Linked DNA regions of Homo sapiens. The protein of the gene in region 2 interacts with the protein of the main gene of each other region in a pairwise test. Each region holds a gene or a part of one and is shown on either strand. Other genes may lie near its edges. The genes, in order: STIP1, SPRY4, RIN3, COQ8A, CHAT and ZDHHC17.

The links.
Region 1: the proteins of SPRY4 (region 2) and STIP1 interact in binary tests that used the Homo sapiens proteins (3 or more experiments, as listed by UniProt).
Region 3: the proteins of SPRY4 (region 2) and RIN3 interact in a two-hybrid assay, tested with the Homo sapiens proteins (one large-scale study listed by BioGRID and IntAct).
Region 4: the proteins of SPRY4 (region 2) and COQ8A interact in binary tests that used the Homo sapiens proteins (3 or more experiments, as listed by UniProt).
Region 5: the proteins of SPRY4 (region 2) and CHAT interact in binary tests that used the Homo sapiens proteins (3 or more experiments, as listed by UniProt).
Region 6: the proteins of SPRY4 (region 2) and ZDHHC17 interact in a two-hybrid assay, tested with the Homo sapiens proteins (one large-scale study listed by BioGRID and IntAct).

Annotation. Positions count from the first base shown.
Region 1 is NC_000011.10:64,192,671-64,196,170, reverse strand, and holds part of STIP1 (stress-induced-phosphoprotein 1), read right to left. Parts: intron 3,094-3,500; coding exon 2,884-3,093; intron 1,983-2,883; coding exon 1,841-1,982; intron 1,693-1,840; coding exon 1,551-1,692; intron 527-1,550; coding exon 358-526; intron 1-357. UniProt on the Homo sapiens protein: Acts as a co-chaperone for HSP90AA1. Mediates the association of the molecular chaperones HSPA8/HSC70 and HSP90.
Region 2 is NC_000005.10:142,309,930-142,312,475, reverse strand, and holds the end of SPRY4 (protein sprouty homolog 4), read left to right. Parts: 3' UTR 1-2,046; downstream 2,047-2,546. UniProt on the Homo sapiens protein: Suppresses the insulin receptor and EGFR-transduced MAPK signaling pathway, but does not inhibit MAPK activation by a constitutively active mutant Ras. Probably impairs the formation of GTP-Ras.
Region 3 is NC_000014.9:92,512,652-92,516,580, reverse strand, and holds the start of RIN3 (ras and Rab interactor 3), read right to left. Parts: upstream 2,801-3,929; 5' UTR 2,649-2,800; coding exon 2,605-2,648; intron 2,208-2,604; exon of another isoform or gene 1,985-2,207; intron 1,418-1,984; exon of another isoform or gene 1,070-1,417; intron 1-1,069. UniProt on the Homo sapiens protein: Ras effector protein that functions as a guanine nucleotide exchange (GEF) for RAB5B and RAB31, by exchanging bound GDP for free GTP. Required for normal RAB31 function.
Region 4 is NC_000001.11:226,967,794-226,971,293, reverse strand, and holds part of COQ8A (atypical kinase COQ8A, mitochondrial), read right to left. Parts: intron 1-3,500. UniProt on the Homo sapiens protein: Atypical kinase involved in the biosynthesis of coenzyme Q, also named ubiquinone, an essential lipid-soluble electron transporter for aerobic cellular respiration.
Region 5 is NC_000010.11:49,659,037-49,662,536, reverse strand, and holds part of CHAT (choline O-acetyltransferase), read right to left. Parts: intron 1-3,500. UniProt on the Homo sapiens protein: Catalyzes the reversible synthesis of acetylcholine (ACh) from acetyl CoA and choline at cholinergic synapses.
Region 6 is NC_000012.12:76,809,115-76,812,614, reverse strand, and holds part of ZDHHC17 (palmitoyltransferase ZDHHC17), read right to left. Parts: coding exon 3,495-3,500; intron 2,903-3,494; coding exon 2,758-2,902; intron 1-2,757. UniProt on the Homo sapiens protein: Palmitoyltransferase that catalyzes the addition of palmitate onto various protein substrates and is involved in a variety of cellular processes.

The DNA.
Region 1 (3,500 bases), on a different chromosome or scaffold from region 2:
GCCCACCTTGGCCTCCAAAAGTGCTGGGATTATAGGCATGAGCCACCGTGCCTGGCCTGAAGCTGATTTTTTAACATGCTGGCCATTCTAATGAATAATAGCCATAAGCTTAGCGCATACTAAAGCACTCAAAATAGTTTTAGGTGGGCACAGTGGCTCGTGACTGTAATCCTAGCTGAAGCAGGAGCATCGCTTGAGGCCAGAAGTTCAAGACCAACCTGGGAAACACAGCAAGACTCCGTCTCTAAAAAAACCATAATAATCATGGTCAATCAAGGTCAACAGATGTCCCCATTCAACATAAAGATTTCTAGTTGTTTATAGATAGGTGACAGTGAGGAGAGAAAAAAACAAGACCTGCTTCTTATTCTCTGGAAGATCTTCTTCCATTGGCTCTGGCTTGGTCTCCTTTTTGGGAGGGGGTGGTGGTGGAGGTGTTGCAATCTCTTCCTCCTCATCCATACTGCCCAGATCGACCCCAAGGAGGACGCTGAGAGTGGTCATGATCCGGGGATCTTGTAGTTTCCTAGTATTGATTTAAAAAAATAAAGAAAAATTGTAATTACTCCTCCCCACAATTAGTCTTTTAACTCCCACTTACTACTAAAGTCAGATTCTTGTGTTTAGAAGCTCCTCACCCATCAAAAGATGGCTAGATTTTGCACCACTCATGAGTTACAATTGAGAAATACTCAAACCGTCAAAACACTATCTAAAATAGAGTCAACAAAAACAAATAAAATGAAGTCACAGATAGCGGAGCACGGTGGCTCACACCTGTAATCCCAGCACTTTGGGAGGCCGAGGCGGGCAGACCACTTGAGGTCAGGAGTTTGAGACCAGCCTAGCCAACATGGTGAAACCCACCGCTACTACTAAACATACAAAAATTAGCTGGGCGTGGTGGCGTACACCTGTAATCCCAGCTACTCAGGAGGCTGAGGCAGGAGAATCGCTTGAACCCAGGAGGTGGAAGTTGCAGCGAACTGAGATCACACCACTGCACTCCAGCCTAGGGGACAGAGCGAGACTCCATCTTGAAAAAATAAAATAAAATAAAATAAAATAAAATGAAGTCACAGAGGTCAAGTTTATTCCTCAAGGTTAGCAGATACACAGAGGAATGAGTTGTTTTAGGTATACTTCCGTAGCTGATCTCAGGAGCCAGAGGATTGATAGAGATGAATACCAGTACAAGATTTAGACACATCTTTACACATGAACTTCAACCCTGTTTCCACTCTGATATACCAACAGAGAAAGTAGGGCCTAAGTAGATGGAAAGGATGGGGTTGACGCTAGATCAGAGTTCTAGAAGAGCAGGAGAGAGGTGTATACAGATGACAAAGAACATTCTAGATTACTGTGAAATATGCTCCCCTGACCCTTTCTATAATTACAAATAAACGACCACCACCTACTGCTCTGCAGAGAATAAGCAAAGGCAAAAACTCTGCAGTTTAGACCAGGGAACCCTCTGCTGTGAGGTTACAGGAAGAAAGCATAACATTCCCCGATTTCCAGAACCTCAGTGAGCGGCGTCCACTTACGTGCCCAGGTCAGAAGGCTTGTTTCGTAGCTGCTCTATCAGCTCCCGGTAGGTAGGATCACTGAGTAGTGTCCTTGTCCTGGGATCACTCTCCAACTTCTGATACAGATTAGGCATGTTGAAAGGGTTCATGAATTTTCTCTCTGTCCAAATAAAGGAAAGCACATCACTATGAAATGAGTTCACTAGAATTACTGTGTCCCATACCCTACCAGACTGACATTTCTCAGGGGTGAAGACTCAAAATTAATCACATTAATAATAAGAAAGAAAACTGTGCGTGGTACCTACCTGCCAACCTGGCCTCCATATTCTGTAAACCCTCTTTCAGTTGAGGGTTATTTGCCTCGTGTTTTAAGCCCTCCTCATAGGTTCGCTTGGCTTCTTCAAAGCGGTTTAAGAACTCTAGAGCTGCTGCTTTTCGTGAATAGCCCTTAAACCACCAAAGACAGACACAAAATAGAGAACACCCAGAGGTAAATCTAGAAGACGAACTCAAAAAAGAACAATTCTACTTTTATGGGGGAAAAATGAGTATTCACATGAAGGCCAAAGAGAAAAAAAGGAGAGGAGTAGGCTACGAGGCCAAGGCTGCTACTGTAAGGATCCATCCAAATAGCAGAGGCACATCCGCCCCGCCTTGTTCACCTCTGATCGACTGTGGTCAGTTTCTTTGGCAACACTTTTTCCCTTATTTTTTTGGTAAAGACAGGGACTCCTTATGTTACCCAGGCTGGTCCCAAACCTTTGGGCTCCAGTAATCCTCCTGCCTCAACCTCCCAAAGTGCTGGGATTATAGGCGTGAGCCACTGTACCGGGCCTCTTCCTTTTTTTTTGAGACAGGGTCTTGCCGTGTCACCTGGGCTGGATGCAGTGGCACGATTTCAGCTCACTGCAACCTCCGCTTGCCAGGCTCAGGTGATCCTCCTGCCTTAGTCTCCTGAGTAGATGGGACTACAAGCACATGCCACCATGCCTGGCTAAATTTTTTTGCATTTTTAGTACAGACAGGGTTTCACCATGTTGGCCAGGCTGGTCTTGAACTCCTGACCTCAAGTGATCCGCCCACCTCAGCCTCCCAAAGTGTTGGGATCACAGGCGTGCGTCACCGCGCCCAGCCCTGGCCTCTTCCTTCTTAGTACCAAAAATAAAGCCTGTATTACAACTAATGGCTACCTTAGATTTGATGAAAAATGCCATTTCTGAGGAGGATACTCAAACAGGGAGGTGGGTAGGTAACTATCAGTGTATCAGGACAGGTAAACCTCAGGCCACCAAAAGGCATTTCTGGAAGGGTCTGAAGGGCCTCTCTCCCTCCACTGCCCACAGCTGACCTTGCCCCAGTCAGGCTTTAGGTCGACAGTCTTGCAGCCATCCTCATAAGCCTTCTGGTAGTCTCCTTTCTTGGCATAGGCAGCAGAACGGTTGCTGTACAGCACGTGGTTGTGGGGATCCAGCTTAATAGCTTCGGAGTAGCACTGTAAGGCATCATCGATGTTACCCACGCTCAGGGCCTTGTTGCCTTTCTCCTTCAGCTCATTGACCTGAGGGGAAAGGAACACACAGCTTCTCTATGATGTGCCCATTTAATCCCAAGCTTTAAAGACAACACTCATTCTTTCATGTAGTTACCAACAAATAAATAGGTGACTTTACAGATCAGAAGAGAGAAAACCGGTTCATTTATTTAATTTCTCACACCTTCCCTAAGGAGCCAGCAAAGAAAAAATAAGCAGGGGCAAAGAGCCCAGGCTGCACTCCACGCTGGCCCCCATGTGACGAACGAGGGCTCTGCCACTCTTCCGGTCTCCACATGGAGCTCACGAAGCCACTCCAGAATGTGCCACATGCTCCTTCCATGGAAAAGTCAATTCATTTGCCACAGATTTCCAAAGCATCCAAATGACAAACAGAGCACAGCCCTAGTCACCCCTCACAGGAAGAAGGTGGG
Region 2 (2,546 bases):
TCCTTCTTGAAGACTAGTAGTAACATCTTATGATTTAGAGTAAGTTGATTGTAACCATAGGTATTTATTGATTGGAGGAAGGGAGGGTCATATTATTTTCGGCTTTATTTATGTAACATTTGCTAGCTTGTAAAAGGCGAATGTGAAATATTGCATCTGCATTTTCCAAGGCTGATTCGTGTAGCTACCCTTGCCACAGTTGTGACGGATGTATGGATGTTCTTGAACATTTCAGAAGGAGTGGTAGAAAAAAACACACATTCAGCCAACCACTTATATGAATTGAATGTATCAGAAGTGTACTGAAGGGACTGGAGATGGTTTTCCTCAGATGAGGGGGCCCCAAAATTGATAGTGCACATCTGCACGCTTTCTGCGAGGCCTCAGAACTTCCCAGGGCCCCTCCCTCAAATTGTCTCCATGGGAAACTTGACCCAGTGGCAAGTTGCACTTTGGTGATCTTGGTGGTCTACACACCCGTTCTGTGGAGAGTCGATTTACATAAGCTGTGTATACACACACACACACACACACACACACCCCTACCCCACACTGACTGTCTACCGACAAAGACCCTATTTCCTGGCAAACGGCCTCCTGAACCCTGACTTTTTGTGTACATACTTGTAAACACGGATTTTTCTGGGTTTTGGTTTGCTTTTTCCTTTTTTCCCCCTGCCCCTGTTCTAGCTTGTTCTTCTTGGTTTGCTTTCAACCTGCTTGATGGATGTCTGCAGAGTGCTCTCTAAGAGTCCACCTCAGTGCCTCGTGTGCTCAGTGGTCATGGGAAAGGAGCGAAGGAACCATCCTTGGTTCTCCCAGCTTGGTTGTGTAGCAATCCCTCAGCATTGTTTTTCTCAGCTTCTTGGCAAAAATTAAAACAACAACAACAACAACAACAACAACAACAAACAGAAGGATAAACTGGCTTGCCTGTGGACCCTCCCCGGCTCTGGGGCCAGTCGAGAGCCACTGAGGGACCCAGCACTCAGAGACACAACACACATGTGTAGCTGCTTCTGGCTGAGTGTGTTTCCTGTCACCAATGGCCTGTTTGGCTGGACGATGCCTCGGCTTGACCTTTTTTGAAAAGTGCTGGTTAGTTCCCGCCCCTGGTAAACCTGGGGTAGGTGGGGGTTCTGTCTTAACTCGAGGGGCACCTGGGATCCAGGACGCTTCTAGGGGGCTCTGGCTGCCCGTGTTAATGAAGGACAGCGCTTCCGCGAGCACCCTGGGAACTGGGTCTTGGGTAGCAAAGCCCTCCCAGAGAAAAGATTGGGCACAACTAAGGCTTTCCTGAGCAGGAAGGGGGTGAAGACCAATCCCTTCCTTTGGTCCTTTGGTACGCACCCCCTCAGAGCTGAGATGGAAGACATGGCTAGTTCTTTTCAGCCTTGTGGAGCCTGTCAGTCGCCATCATACCTCGAGTGAGGCCCAGCTAGATAATGACTTGTCCAAGATGGCACACGTGGAAAGTTGATCTGCACCAGAACCCGGATGACTGTCACCTTGAAGCATCCTGTTCTCCTTCTGTGCTGTCCCAGGAAGTGTCTGGCGGGCGTGGGCAGCACAGCTCTACACTGTACGATTCACTAGGGCATCCTGCGAGCCTCACTAGCCTTCTGGTTCATGCCTTTGACAAGCATTTTTGTGCCCCCTCTGCTTACTGTGACAGTCGATGATGAATCTTGCGTTGCCATTTTCTGCTGTGGGTAACTGCGTGCAGTGTCTTGCCTTGCTTTCTCTTCTTACTGTCCCACAGCTTGGTTTCATGTTACAAACAGAAAAGCTCGAGGCTCCCACCCCGCCACATCCCAACTTCATTTCCCCCTCACTGTAGCCCATTTCCACCCCACCACAAAGTTGCCACAGGTTTTCTTTGTATAGAATATTTATTTTGAAGCTCTATTTTAATAGTATTTATTTTAGAAAGTCTACTATTGTAAGAGTTCTTCTGTTTGTGAAGAAAAAAACAAGTTAAAAACTGAATGTACTGATTTAGAAAATATATATAAATATATATTGTTAAATATACACGGGACTGCCGTTTCTGGTGTGTTTGTGTGTTTACTTCCCTGACCTCTTCAGCCAGCAAGGCCTCAAGTTTGAGAATAAGCAGCCACTGAAAGGGGAAGAGAAGATAGGGCTTCCTGGGCTGGGCAATCCCTTCTCCCAGCTCTAGGACGACCGTAGAACCATCGGAGGAAAGCTGCTCTTCATTATGAAGCGGAATACTGCAAGGAGCTGCTAGAGCCTCCTTCCTGGGAAAGCTGTCCCCTAAACTGGAGTGTGCTGCAGATGGACAGCAAAGCTCCAAAACTGGGAAGAGGTAGAGGGGGAAAAGTGTCATCTGACCTGTCCATTCCTCTCCCTTTATGTCCCGATTGCCCCCAAAGCAGGTTTTCACACACATGAACACACAACATACATGCTTCAAGGAACTAAATAGAAAAGCCCTTGGTCATTTCCGTATTTTCACAGGATTGGTGCATATTGCACAAAACTAGTCCTTTTAGCCTCGAAAGCCTTCCATCCATTTCATGACC
Region 3 (3,929 bases), on a different chromosome or scaffold from region 2:
CTCCTGTGCATCAGAGCCTCTGTTAGGATCTGGAAAGGGCTAGGTCTCCTAGCTAAGTGCCAGTCAGGACCTCCAGGGAACATTAGCTCCTTGAATCCAGGAAGCCAAGGTCAAGGGACAGAGCTGGAGCTACGAGCTCACACCCTGAATCCATCACTGGCCCTGCTGTAGGTGGGCCCCACCCAGAAGAGCCCCCTGTCTCAGCCTGGAGTGGTTAAGGGGCTCCTCTTCAGGGCTCCAGCAGGACCCCTGTATTAGATCAGGCCAAGGCTCAGGAGACATGAGTTCCACCACCACCTCCCCCAATACCAGGGAACCCATTTCCCCTTTCTGGGTTTCTGGTTCCTCATTGTTAAATTAGGGGATTGATTAGGTCAATGACAGCCACATTTTTTCCAGCAGTGGAATCCTTTTCCAAATGAAATCTTAAGCAGACCTTTAATATAGCAAAAATGTGAAAAGGTGACTGGTCTAGTTGCTATGGTGGGGCTGCATGGGGGTGCCTGCTAGGTCTCTCCCTACCCCCTGAAAGCTACTGGCCTGAGTGGACTCTGAGAACCCACTCTCAGCAGACTCCGCACAGTTCGGCATCTGTCCCTGATGCACTGGACCCTGGGCAGACAGAGCCCAACCAGAGTCATCCTCCACTCCTCTCTCCCTCCAATCCATCAGCAAATCCTCTACCCTTCAAAGTCCTTCCAACCCAAAAGGTCCTCCAAAACAAAGCCATGTTTTAGCAACAAACCAATATTCATACAGTGCTAGAATGTACCAAGCACAGTTCTAAGCAGGCCTGAACGGATGTTTCCCCTAAGCTGCCTGGGGGCAGCTACTTAGCTATGAACTCAGCCAATCCACGAAACAATTCTATGTGGTGTGTGTTGCTAGCACCCCCAGTTTACAGGTGAGGCAGGGGCCGGGTCATTTGTCTAAGGTTACACATTTGGCAAATGGAGGGATCATACCCAACAAATGATAATAATGGTGATAATTATGATTAAGGGTTTACCATATAGTCTAATGTATTCAACTCTGTGTATTTAGTCCTCAAAACAACTCTAAGGGGTAGTTACTATTATTTATCATTTTATTGATAAGTGAACTGAGATACAGAGAGTTTAAATAACCGACCCAGTAATGAACAAAAAAAGACAAGAGGAAGTGGATCACACTAGGTCATCTCTGGGGAAAATGAGAAGCCGGTGAGGCCAGCGCCCTGGCCCCTCACCTCCCCTTCCTCCCTGAGAAACTCCTCTCCGGCTTCACCCTGCCATCTTGGGTGTGGCAGATACTTGCAAGTGGGTGTGAGGGTTGGGGGGCTCTTCCCCAACGGATTCCCAGTTCTTCCCACCGGATGGTATTTGTCTTTGCAGAGGTCGCTTTCGAGAGAAAGAAACCAGCATCCAGAATTTCCGGGCTGGCAGGATGGAGGGAGAAGAAGGGAAGGGAGACGTTCAGATCTAGATGAGCTTAAGGCCCCCTCCCAGTCCCTCCCAGCTGAGTGAGAGCCAGTCACCTCCAGCTGTCCCCCAGTTCAGGACTGCACAAGATGGGCCCAACTCTCCTGTTTCACAGAGCAGAGAACTGAGGGCCTGGGAGATGAGGTCCCACTGCCAAGCCAGGGAGCGGCAGGGTGTCCATCAGAGAAGTAGGCCCGGGACTTTTAAACCAAAAAGCTGGGAATGGCCTCCCCAGACGCGCTCCTGGGTACCCAGAAATAGGCTTTCCCCGGGAATCCGCCTCCGACCGGGCGTCTCTACAACACCTGAAGCTTCTCAGGACGCCCTCTGAGCTGGGCAAGGCGAGAGGACTTTCTCCCAGAGCCCAGCCCCGAGCAATGCCCGAGCTCGCGAGGTGGGGCTGGGGGCGACAAGGAGGCGGAGCGGGGACTTAGCCACCGGGGACTCCTCTCCAAGTCAGTTCCCAAACCATTCGGCGTCATGCATCCACAGCCCGCGCGCAGCCCGTGCGCCCTGGACCCTACCCAAGCACTAGGCTCGACCAGGGCCGGTCCGAAGGTCACCGTCTACGGCCAGGGCAGAGGGGCGGCGGGAAAAGGGCCCAGTGGACCCTCGGTCCAGGAGGGCCGGTCAGCTGTTGGGCCGCGGGCACCCAAAGTTGCGGGGGTCCGGGTCTCCGACCCCACGCCCAGCGGGGCTCTAGTACCCGAGGGCGCGCGCTGCGACTCGCAGAGCAGCGGGTGCAGCAGGCTGGCGGGGCTGGGACCGCGAGTTTTGTTTGCAAAGTTCAGGCGGGGCAGACGCCAGGGAGGGGGCCGCGTCCACGCGGGCAGCCCCGGCGCTGACAGGTAGCGACGCACTCCCTCGTAATCCGTCCACCAGCAGCCTAAAGTGTGCACTGGGTTCCCAGTGAAATGCCTGGCCTTGAAAGTTTAGCCAACATCGGGTCCAGCGGAGTCACCAGGGCCGCCCCCTGCCCCGCAGAACCAGGTTCTGGCCTCGGCCACGGTGGGGGTCCCGTATCAGCCCGACAACCCCGAGGTCACGCGCCCGAAGGACTCTCTGGGACAAGAAGTGGAGTGGGGCGGCCAGGACGCGGGCCGTGGGGATCGCGAGGGAGGAGGGGGCGGCCGCCCGGACTTACCCCGTGGGGTCCCCGCGCGCGGGCGCCCCGGCGTGTCGGATCATGCCGCCGGCAGCTCCGGGACGGGGAACGGAGGCGCTCAGGCGCCGGGCCGCGCGGAACGCGGAGTCCCGGGCGCCCGCATGTCCCTGGCTCTGGCCCTCTGGAAGGGCCAGGCCGCCGCTGCCGCCGCGCTCTGGGGCTCTCGCTCCCTTCTACTTCCTGTATCGGAGCGAGCGGGGCTTTCAGGAAGAGGCTGGCCTTGGTGGTCAAGGGTTTTTTTGTCAAAAGCCATTCGGCAGCGGCTCGCGGCCCGGAGCCCCCTGGGGCACACGGAGGCCCGGGCGGCCGCGCCCCCGGGGCCGGGCCTCGGGGCGGGGGGTGCTGGGGCCAAGGCGCCGCACGGGCGCCCAACCTCGGGGTGCCGCCTCCACAGGCTGTGGCTGGGGCTGGGGCGCGGGAGGCCCGCGGGGCTTCGGAGAGGGAAACTTAGAGAAAAGTCTTCCACTTGGCTTGGGGCCGCAGGGGAAGGAAGACGCCCTCCGCCTGTGCCGGCGCCGACCGCGGGCCGGCAGGTGGGGAGGCCCAGAGCTGGCGGGGAGTTCGTCCCACTCGGAGCCACAGCCTTGCCCGAGGGAGCCTCGAAATCGTTCAAGGGCAACCTCAGACCAGAGCCAGGGCGCCTCCTCCACATTCCTGACAGATGTGCACGCCGCCTCCTCTTGGATGCTTCCCGTGACAAGGAGCTCACTCCTCAACAAGGCGGACTGCTCGTCCATCAAGCCTGGCATCTAATTCACCTGTGCCGGGTACCGCAGATGGAGAACGCCAGACAGCTGACACAAATGCAAGACCCACAGCAACCCCAGGTGGGACCGTGAGGCCTCTTCTAAGTGCCTGGGTGTTCAAAAATGCCTCCCGAGCCCAGTGTTTTCCCAGAGCATTTCCCAGAGTGACTGAGCAGGACTGGACCCTATTAGGTCACCTCAGTCTCATGCAGGATTTCTTTACCTGGCCGCTACTGCCATTTGGGGCCGGCTAATGCTTTGTTATTGGGGCTAATGCTTTGTTATTGGGGCCAGCTAATGCTTTGTTATTAAACCTCCTTCAAAACTGCAGGAGGTTTAACGGTATCCATGGCCTCTCCATGATTCATAAAATACCCATAGCATCAGCCTCTCTCTGTAACGACCAGAAATGTCTCTAGATATCACAAGTGTCCTCCGGGGGCAAAATCGTCGAGGTCTAATACCATCATTTTAGAGATAAGGAAACTGAGGCCTAGAGAGTGGAGGTGACTTGCTCAAGGCCATATGGCAAGTGAGGACCAGACAGGACTGAGCCCA
Region 4 (3,500 bases), on a different chromosome or scaffold from region 2:
GGCATGAGCCACCGTGCCCAGCTATAATGACATTTTCAAAAAAATAAAAACTAGGTCGGGTGTGGTGGCTCATGCCTGTAATCCCAGCACTTTGGGAGGCAGAGGTGGGTGGATCACCTGAGGTCAGGAGTTCGAGATCAGCCTGGCCAACATGGCAAAACCCCATCTCTGCTAAAAATACAAAAATTAGCTGGGTGTGGTGGCATGCACCTGTAATCCCAGCTACTCAGGAGGCTGAGGCAGGAGAATCACCTGAACCCGGGAGGCAGAGGTTGCAGTGAGTCGAGATCACGCCATTGCACTCCAGCCTGGGTGACAAGAGCAAAACTTCATCTCAAAAAATAAATCAATAAAAAATAAATAAAAACTAAAAGAATTCATGATTAACAGACTACACTGTAAGAGAGAGGAGAGTTCCTCAGAGAAAAAGAAAATTATACCAAATAAAATTATAGAAATGCAGGAAGAAAGAAACACAAAAAAGGGCAAATATGTGGGTAAATCTAAATTCATATGGGCTGTACAAAGAAATAATTCTTGTGGTGTTTAATATATCTTAATATCTAAAAAGTGTTCTAAGGTATTAGCATCATTGGAGAAGTAGTAAAAATAATCACTTATTTTTATATTGTAATAAGTCAAGATGCGTGCTGTAATCTCAAGAGTGATCACCAAAAGAACCGTAAAGGAATGTAAAACATAAGAGCTAACAAAGAGAGAACATGCACGGTCACGCATCATGTAACATTTCAGTCAACGGACTGCATATACGACAGTGATAGATTGTATCATATTTTTACTATACCTTTTCTATGTTTAGGTACACAAATACCGTTGTATTACAGTTATCTACTGTATTCAGTACAGTAACATGTTGTAAAGGTTTGTAGCCTAGGAGCAACAGGCTATGCCATACAGCCTAGGCATGTAGCAGGCTATACCATCTAGGTTTGTGTAAGTACACTCTATGATGTTCACACAATGATGAAACTGCCTAACGACACATTTCTCGGACTGAATCCTTGTTAAGACACACATGAGGGCCAGGTGCGGTGGCTCATGCCTTTAATCCCAGCACTTTGGAAGGTTGAGGCAGGTGGATCACTTGAGGCCAGGAGTTCAAGAACAGCCTGGCCAACATGGCAAAACCCTGTCTCCGCTAAAACTACAAAAATTAGCCGGGCATGGCAGCACACACCTGTAATTCCAGCTATTCGAGTGGCTGAGGCATGGGAATTGCCTGAGGTTGCTGTGAGCCGAGATCACGCCGCTGCACTCCAGCCTGGGTGACCGAGCGAGACTGTCTCCAAAAAAAAAGAGAGACGCATGACTATAATTTTAAGTCCTTGATTAATTTAAAAGAAGGCAAAACAGGTGAGAAAAAGGGGGACATAACAGACAGGTCAAATAGTAAACAAACAAAAACTAAGGTAGTAGATATAAACTCCAATACATCCACAATTGCATTTAAATGTAAATGGACTAAATATTCTCATTGTAAGATTATCAGTCTACACTTAAAACACACAAAAAACCAACTATATATGCTGCTCATAGATATGCATTAAACATAAGGACATTTTAAAAGTTGAAAGTACAGGGGAAAAAAAAAAGGTAACATGCAAACATTACCCAAAACAAAGCTGGAATGTAGCTATAGTAATATCAGACAATGAGGACTTTCACAGAGATGAAAAGAGGCATAACATAAGAATGAAGGGTCAATCCCTAGGAGGATATAAGAAGAATTCTAAATCTGGCCGGGCGCGGTGGCTCACGCCTGTAATCCTAGCACTTTAGGAGGCCGAGGCGGGCGGATCATGAGGTCAGGAGATCGAGACTTATCACGCACGTGTAGTCTCAGCTACTCGGGAGGCTGAGGCAGGAGAATCACTTGAACCCAGGAGGCAGAAGTTGCAGTGAGCCAAGATTGTGCCACTGCACTCCAGCCTGGGCGACAGAGCAAGACTCTGTCTCAAACAAAAAAAAAGAATTCTGAATCTGTAGGCAACAAATAACATAGCTTCAAACCATATAAAGCACAAGTCAATAGACTAAAAGTAGGTAAATCCACAATCATAGCAGACTTTTTAATGCCTCTCTCGATAGCTTATTGAATAAGCAAACCAAAATCACTTAAAAATCTGATCAATATGAATAATAAACCAGACTAGATAGACGGATCACTGCACTCAACATGAATTATTTTCAGGTAAACATGGAACATTTACCAAAATATTCCCATTTGGAATCAACGGCAAGACCCTTATTTTACAAAAGAGAAAACCACGGTAGAGCCCAAGGTCACACTGGAAGCACAGTTGTAATCAAAGGACAGCTATTATGATGAACTAAAGTTCAGTTCTGACCCCATATCCAATATATGACCCTTTCTTTCACACCACTCTTTAAGAAAATCTAATATCCACAGATCATCCTGCCCATAGCATCACAGTCATAATGTCCCATAGCCAAATTGGACTTAGGACTCATGCCCCGCCCCCATTTCAGCATCAAAATGAGCCCCTGGAATTGGAAAGTCCTTGACTTCCACTTCTATATAGCTGAATACCTACTGCCAACCTCGCTGAAAACCCGTCTGGGTCCCTGCAGCAGCCCTACCTCCCTGAGACCTAGAGCAATCCCTTTCCTTCATAACCCCGTGTAAAAACTTCCTAAAGTCTGTCAGTCTGCACCTGAAAAACACCTTTCCTCCATGAAGGGAAGAAAGGCTAGAGGTATTTTCTAGGAGAACAAAGCGCAACAGTGCAACTACAAACTGTTTGGATGATGACCCACCAGTAAGCTATATATTTCACATTGTAGTGAAGAACATACTTAAATAGTATGTATGTCTCTGAAACTAAAATATCTTGCCATGTGTATAGTTCATTGTAAGGATGTACGATATTAATTCTAATCTTTTCTATTGAATTCCATTCTGTTTAACTTGTTTTTTGAGACAGAGTCTCACTCTGTCGCCCCCACTGGAGTGCAGTGGCGCAATCTCAGCTCACTGCAACCTCTCCCTCCTGGGCTCAAGCAATTCTTGTGCCTCAGCCTCCCGAGTAGCTGGGATTACAGTCACATGCCACCACACCTAGCTAATTTTTGTATTTTTTTAGTAGGAATTGGGGTTTCACCATGTTGGCCAGGCTGGTCTCAAACTCCTGACCTCAGGTGATTCTCCCACCTCGGCCTCCCAAAGTGCTGAGATTACAGTTAACTTGTTTTTTATATGCTGATCCTGATGCATTAAATTAATTTCACAGTTACTAAAGGGTCATAACCTACAGTTTGAAAGGTTCAACTGGGTGAGCCAGAAGGCCCAGAATTCCCCACTAGGGCCAGAACGGCACGTTCTTTCCTGACCTGGCTTCTCTTTGCTCCCATCCTGCCATCTCCAAGCCTGAAACATCATCTGTCAATTGCTTGGGCAACAACATGAGCATCTCTGAATCATAGCTGTGGGCAATCCTCCAGCACACAGACACCCACAG
Region 5 (3,500 bases), on a different chromosome or scaffold from region 2:
CATGCTTACCCAGTGCCTGCTGCCAACAATGTGTATGAGTGGCTGCTCAGGACTGACCGCTCTACCATGCGGCCTCTGCTCCCGGGCCCTTGCGCATTTCCACATGCACTGAATGAGTCCAGAGCAGGTTGGGTTCTAGCTTGAGACATCTGAGCTAAAGGTTAGTGAGTCTGAGCATCCCCTACACAACTATATCCGCCTGGTTCTCTAAGTGGAAAGAATGGGGCTGGCCTGGTCTTCTCAACTACCAACTGCTTGGGCAGGGAGAGAGTTTGGGAAGAAGGCTGTGTGCAGAGCTTGGAGACTACCGGATCCTGTGCAAGCATTGTGAAGGGCGTCCCAGGCTGTCCTGAACAGACTCCCACCACAACCAGCGCTGTCTCCTCCAGTAGGAGCCCAGGGAACAAGAGATAGAGGATAGAGGGTGTGAGATCTGTTACTGAATCTTGGCTGCTATTTCATGGCTCAGGATCAATTCATTTAAACTGGATCCATAATCTAAGAAATCGTTTTGAGACAGGAACTAGACCCCTTAGCAGGCTCAACTGACATTTTCAAGGGGAAAGAGCCTGTTGAATAATAAAAGTTCTTTTTCTTTTTATCACAAGATATTTAAACTTTTATCAAAGGATAGAAATATAGAGAAAGCTCCAGGATGTCAATGTAGGAGGGGTTCACGGAGGGTGAGGTGTCTGGAAGTGGGGCCGGGTACTCATTCTACAGCTCCCCCACTTGAGGCTGGGTATGTAGTATGCACACTGGTTTTTTGGACTGCATGTTTATTTGGAGCAATTCTAGGGGCTGATGGAGACTCAGGGGGCCACCCTGACCCATAGTAATCACTTTTGGGTCAACATCAGGGTAACTGTGAGTAACTCTTGGGGTTTCACAGTTCTGTAGGATGGCCAGTTAGCTGTCAAAGCCCTGCACAGGAGGAAACTTCCCATTCACAATGAACTTGGTATAGGTTTACAAGGCACGTTTAGGGATTTGACAGCTGTTCTCTTTCAGTTGCGAATGAATGCATAAAGATGACTCAGGCTCTGGTCTCTCTGAACGCACCTAATTAGAGGCTGAAAAGACAAACATTACACAACCACAGCTCACTTTAGACGTGCCCTACCTGTTAGGACCGAAGGAAAGAACGGTGAGCCCATCTATGAAGGAGACTACTCTTTTAATTTCTCTGGTTTCCTCTATTTAATTCCTGATTTGTGTTGGTCCATAGAAGCAGCTTCCCTGTGAACAGTCAACTCACCCCTCTTTTCACCACCTTGGAATAACTGTAGCAAGAGAGACTGAGTTCACAGGTTGTTTGGCTCAGAGCCATGAGTAATAACGAGTAAAATGACTTATAATTCAGTCTTTCATTCATTCATTTAGGGAATCTTAATTGAGTGCCTACTATATGCCTGGTGCCGCGGGTCCTGTAGCCACAACAGAGAACAAGACAGTTGTAGACTCAGTCCTTGTGGAGCTTATGGTGTAGTGGGGGACAGATTTCATCAACCATGCAAAAAAACATGATCATAAACTCAAGTGTGAGGAAGGGAAAACATAGAAGTGGGAGAGTAAGTGATGGGGGCTCTGGACCACCTTGCCATTGGAACTTTATTTCTCCACGACCACTGGCAAATATGCTTACCAGTTATTAGGTTTCCTTGCTTCTTTCCCCCTTTCCTTACCCTCCATGTCCAACCACACACCAGATTCACATCCTAAGCATCTTTGTATCTCTCCTTTCCCCAAACCCATCTCTTTGATTTGGTTGTTCTCATCAACTTAAAATTATTAACACAACCCTATGGCAATGCTTTGGAGGGTGTTTTCCTAGACATTTTAATAAATTTAAAGTTGTTATTGTCATATATTTATATCGTTTAGAAATCCAAATAAACCAAAAGCCTAGGTCATTTTGCCAGCACGGATTCCTACCCCACAAAGGTAATTCCTTACAGTCTTTTAGCTATTTCTTTTGGGTATATACTTTCTTTCCTCCAAACATATGCTTAGGTTACCACTACTGAATTTCTCAGTTTTACCTATAATCTTCTTGTTATAGACAGTGAAATTTCAGCTCTTTTTTTTTTTTTCTGAGATGGAGTCTCACTCTGTCGTCTAGGCTGGAGTGCAGTGGCGCGATCTCAGCTCACTGCAACCTCTGCCTCCTGGGTTCATGCCATTCTCCTGCCTCAGCTTTCTGAGTAGCTGGGACTACGGGCACCCCGCCACCACACCTGGCTAATTGTTTTGTATTTTTAATAGAGATGGGGTTTCACCGTGTCAGCCAGGATGGTCTCGATCTCCTGACCTTGTGATCCACCTGCCTCAGCCTCCCAAAGTGCTGGGATTACAGGCGTGAGCCACTGCACCCGGCCAATTTCAGCTCTTTTATGACCCTGCTCCCCCAGCACACTTCTACTCTCCCATCTTCCCAATAAGATTATGTTTTAACTCTTTGTAGTTTGATCAAGATACAGCATAATCATGTATACAGAACGATATACATAAGTATAATTAAGCAAGTATTCACAGCTGGGTCATGTAGTGTACTATGATTAGATTTCCTTTCTTATTGAATTTTTTGTTTTCCCTAGAATTGACAATGTATAAATTACTTTTTTACTTCCTTAGCTTTCCATGTATCTATTTTATTTATTTATTTATTTACTTTTGAGATGGAGTTTTGCTCTTTCACCCAGGCTGGAGTGAAGTGGCGTGATCTCGGCTGACTGCAACTTCCACCCCCTGGGTTCATGTGATTCTCCTGCCTCAGCCTCCTTAGTAGCTGGGATTACAGGTATGTGCCACCACACCTGGCTATTTTTTGTATTTTTAGTAGAGATGGGGTTTTGCCATGTTGGCCAGGCTGGTCTTGAATTCCTGACCTCAGGTGATCCACCCACCTCGGCCTCCCAAGGTGCTAGGATTACAGGCATGAGCCACTGTGCCAGGCCCCATGTATCTGTTTCTAACTGATTCCTAAACATGCAGCAAGAATTTCATTTGTCCTCTCACTTCTTGCTTCTTTATGGACTGATTGCTCTCTAGGTGTACTCAACAACTGTTGATTTGTGATCTCCTTTTACTGTCATCCTGCGGGCACCCCTCTATCTTTTTCTTGTGTTAAATCTTCTGTTTTTTTTCAGCCTATGATTTCCTCTTTTATGTTTTATTTTCTCACTTTAGAAGTCTACATTCTCCAGTAGCTTTATGAGAAATGGTGCTTAATAAGTAAAATGTTTGAGACTTTCTCTGTCTAAAAATATCTTTGATGCATCTTCAAACTTGATGACAGTTTAGCTGGGTATGAAATGTGTGTTGAAGGTCACTTTCTCTCAGAATTTGAAGACACTACTCTTTTTATCTTCCACCTTCCAATGATGCTGTTCAGAAATTAATTACATCTTTTTTATGGATCTTTGTATTTGATTTTTTTATCCTCTGATAGATTTTAGAATCTTCTCTTCATGTTTAGTGTTGTGAAATTTCCTTTGCTA
Region 6 (3,500 bases), on a different chromosome or scaffold from region 2:
TAATAAAAATGTAGTAAAAATTTATCAGAACATAGTTAACATTAAGAAAAACAATATTATTGACTACAGTCGATAAAAGAGAAAGGGAAGAAGAAATAAAAATATGCTAATTTTATTACTGCTTATAATTAGGAACTATGTAATCAGAACTAATAAAATTTGAGCAACCATCTGACTGAAGAGAGAGAGAGAAACTGTGTGACTATCTGAGGAAAGAATATACCAGCAGAAGAAACAGCAACCAAAAGGCCCTTAGACAACAGCATGTCAGAGTTGCTGAAAAAGTAGCAAAAAAAAACTAGTGCAGTTAAAGCAGAGTGATGATGGGGAGATGGCAGAAGTGGAGCTCAAAGGTATCCAGGGGTTAAACGGCACAGTGCTCTAGCACAGAGAAAAACTCTGGGCCCTCACAGTATGATGCAATGCACATTGGAAGAGTGTCTTTTACAATATATTAGTGTATACATGTTGAGTATCCTTTATGTAAAATGCTTGGGACCAGAAGTGTTTGAATATGTGTATGTTTTTCCTATGTTGAAATATTTGCATATATGTAATAAAATCTTGAGAATGGGACCAAAATCTAAATGTGGAATTCATTCATCTTTCATATACACCTTATACATACAGCCTGAAGGCAATTTTATTCAATATTTTAAATAATTTTGTACATGAAACAAAGTGTGTGTACAACGAACTATATTGGAAAGCAAAGGTGTCAGGGGTAAAATTTTCCACTTGTGGCATCATGTTGACACTCAAAACGTTTTGGATTTCGCAGCATTCCGGATTTTCAGATTACAGATGCTTAATCTGTACATGGAATAAAATCTCTTAAAATACATACTACATTATTAAAGGAAGTAACCTCAGTCAGCAGATGGCCAAGGGGAGAGGTGAGATTTCATTTTCTAAGTCATATTCTATTATGCCTGAATATTTCATAATAAACATTTATTATCTTTGTGTGCAGAAAAAAAATTTACTCATGGAAAAAAAAAACTATTTCTCAGACATTTATCATCATCATTATCATCATCATGCCCTTTTTGTACCAAAAGCACTGACAGGTAGAAATCCTGCCCTTTGAGAATTTTATAGCCTATATACTATACCAGAGGTTAAAAAGATTAATGAAATAATCCAAACTCCAAAATCAATAAGTTAAAAAAAAGACCATGAAGACTCAAAAATGTACACCACCTTTCTTTCCCAGTTAAAAACTGAAAGTAAAAAAGTGAATGTGTATTGTAGATTTATTCTGCAATATGGAAGGCCACTAAAGACCTTGTGATGTGCTATAGCACCATTTACTGCTTCAACGTTTGTTCTAGAAAAAAACTGCAGAATAACAAGAATAATCTCCTATAGCAGTTGCTCTCCAGATGACCCCCCATAAACCTGGCCTCTTGGTATTCACACCCTTGTGTGGTCCCTTCCCTCCGGGTGGTTATGGCCCTTGTTAACTCACTTTAACTGATAGAATGGAGAAAAAACGTTGCTGTGTCAGTTCAAGACCTAAGACTTAAAAATGCAAAACAGCTTCTACTTTTGTTCTTTTGGGAGCTCTAAGCCAATATGTAAGAAGTCTAGTTCTCCTGCTGGAAAGACCACATGGACTGGTATTGAAAAGTAGAAGTTCTGACACTACATAGAGAAAGAAAGAGGCCTCGCTGCCCCAGCCTCCCAGTTAAGCAGTTTGTAGCCATTCCTATCAAGTCACAAGATATGTGAGCCAATCTTCCAGCTCAGTCAAGCCGCCAGACAACTGCAGCCACCAGCCAAGGAGAAAAACCATCCAGCCAAGCCCACAAAATTGTGAGACGTATTAATTGGTTGGTATTGTTCTTAAGCCATTAGATTTTGGCAGTAGTTTTTTAACACAGTAACAGACAATAACCCCCCCTCCCCTTCCAGCAATTAACTTTATCAGTCTATGCCTCTTTTCCTAAACTATAATGCACAACACAACTGCCACTGCTTGAGACTGCCAACAACAAATACTGTAAAACCTTCATTAAAAGAAATAGTATTCAAATTCTAAATCCGCATAGAATTTTAAATTAACAATAAATACATGTTGATAGCAACAAATTAAATACATATATCTTAAAGTTATTCTTGTGATGAGATCCTTACTTATAAAATTAATGTTCAAATATAACCAGAAAAAACACACTAAAGAAAAACTGGGTGACATTACTTTTAACAAAATACGTTTATTACAAAAACATGATTATATAAACTGGTAATATTTAATGTGATTATGGTCACTGCACACTCAAGAAAAATCAGGAACAACCACTTAAAATATGATGTTTTTCTGACAAGTAAGAAGCAGCATTATCTTATACAGCAGAAACTGATCTTAAAAAATGTATCCCTCTCAAGAGATATTTAATATATAAAATAACCAATAAATAAGTTCAAAAAAGTTTGGATGAATTCAGATGATATATTCAAAATACATAAAGAAAAAATAGATACTTATATTTTCTCTCTTAATTTCTGAGCTTTATCTCCATTACTCTTAGAAATAAAAAACCCAACTTCATCATTATCTGGTTCATGATTTTCATGCTGGCTTTTATGTTAGGTACATTAAATATCTCCATATCAAACTCACTATATTTATGTTCTTCACCCATCAGAAAGTGCTATTTAAATATCAACGGCTTGTTACAACACCAATAATATTAGGCATTTAAACTATGAAGAACATCTGATTAAAATCCATACCACTGAGATTTTTTTTACCTGTCCTTTTGCTATGAGATAAGCAACAATTGAGGTATGTCCGAACTGAGCAGCCAGATGAATACAGCTACATCCTTCTCCATCAATTAATGAAGGATCTGCACCATATTTCATTAGTTGCACAACCATGGATAGATGGCCTTGTCTAAAACATAAAAGAATAAACACTTAGATATATAAAGTTATTTCAAACAGGATCCTCTGGGAAGAGCTTTTTCAAGTAAGGTATGGTGGGAAGATTACGTATGTATTTTGAAAAGTTATTTTAAAATAGATACATGTCAAAATACATTTAGGATTTTATGGTTCTTAGAAGTCTTAACTAGATTAACAGTCTGAAAATGTATGGAAGTACTCATAACTTATTTAAATATATAGTAAATAATTACTATATTCTATTATGTCCATTCTAATATTATCTCAATCATCCCAAGAAATGAGCTAATTCTTTCATTGTAAATATATACAGGCTGCAAAAATATTACGTTTAGAAATCCAAAGTTTAATCCAATCTTATAACTAACTGAATTAATATCAGCATGGCCAGGGAAACTTTGGACAATAAACTTTTGCTTCTTTACAGGTAATATTTCACAATAAAACATCAGCATATTTATGATATTAACTAACGGCATAATAAGCTCTCCTATTCATTTTAGTATATCATTTTTTTAAAGTTGTTTATTTATATACTAATAAAGGAACCAAAGGAAAAAAATCCAGAAGCAAATTTAAACCTTGTG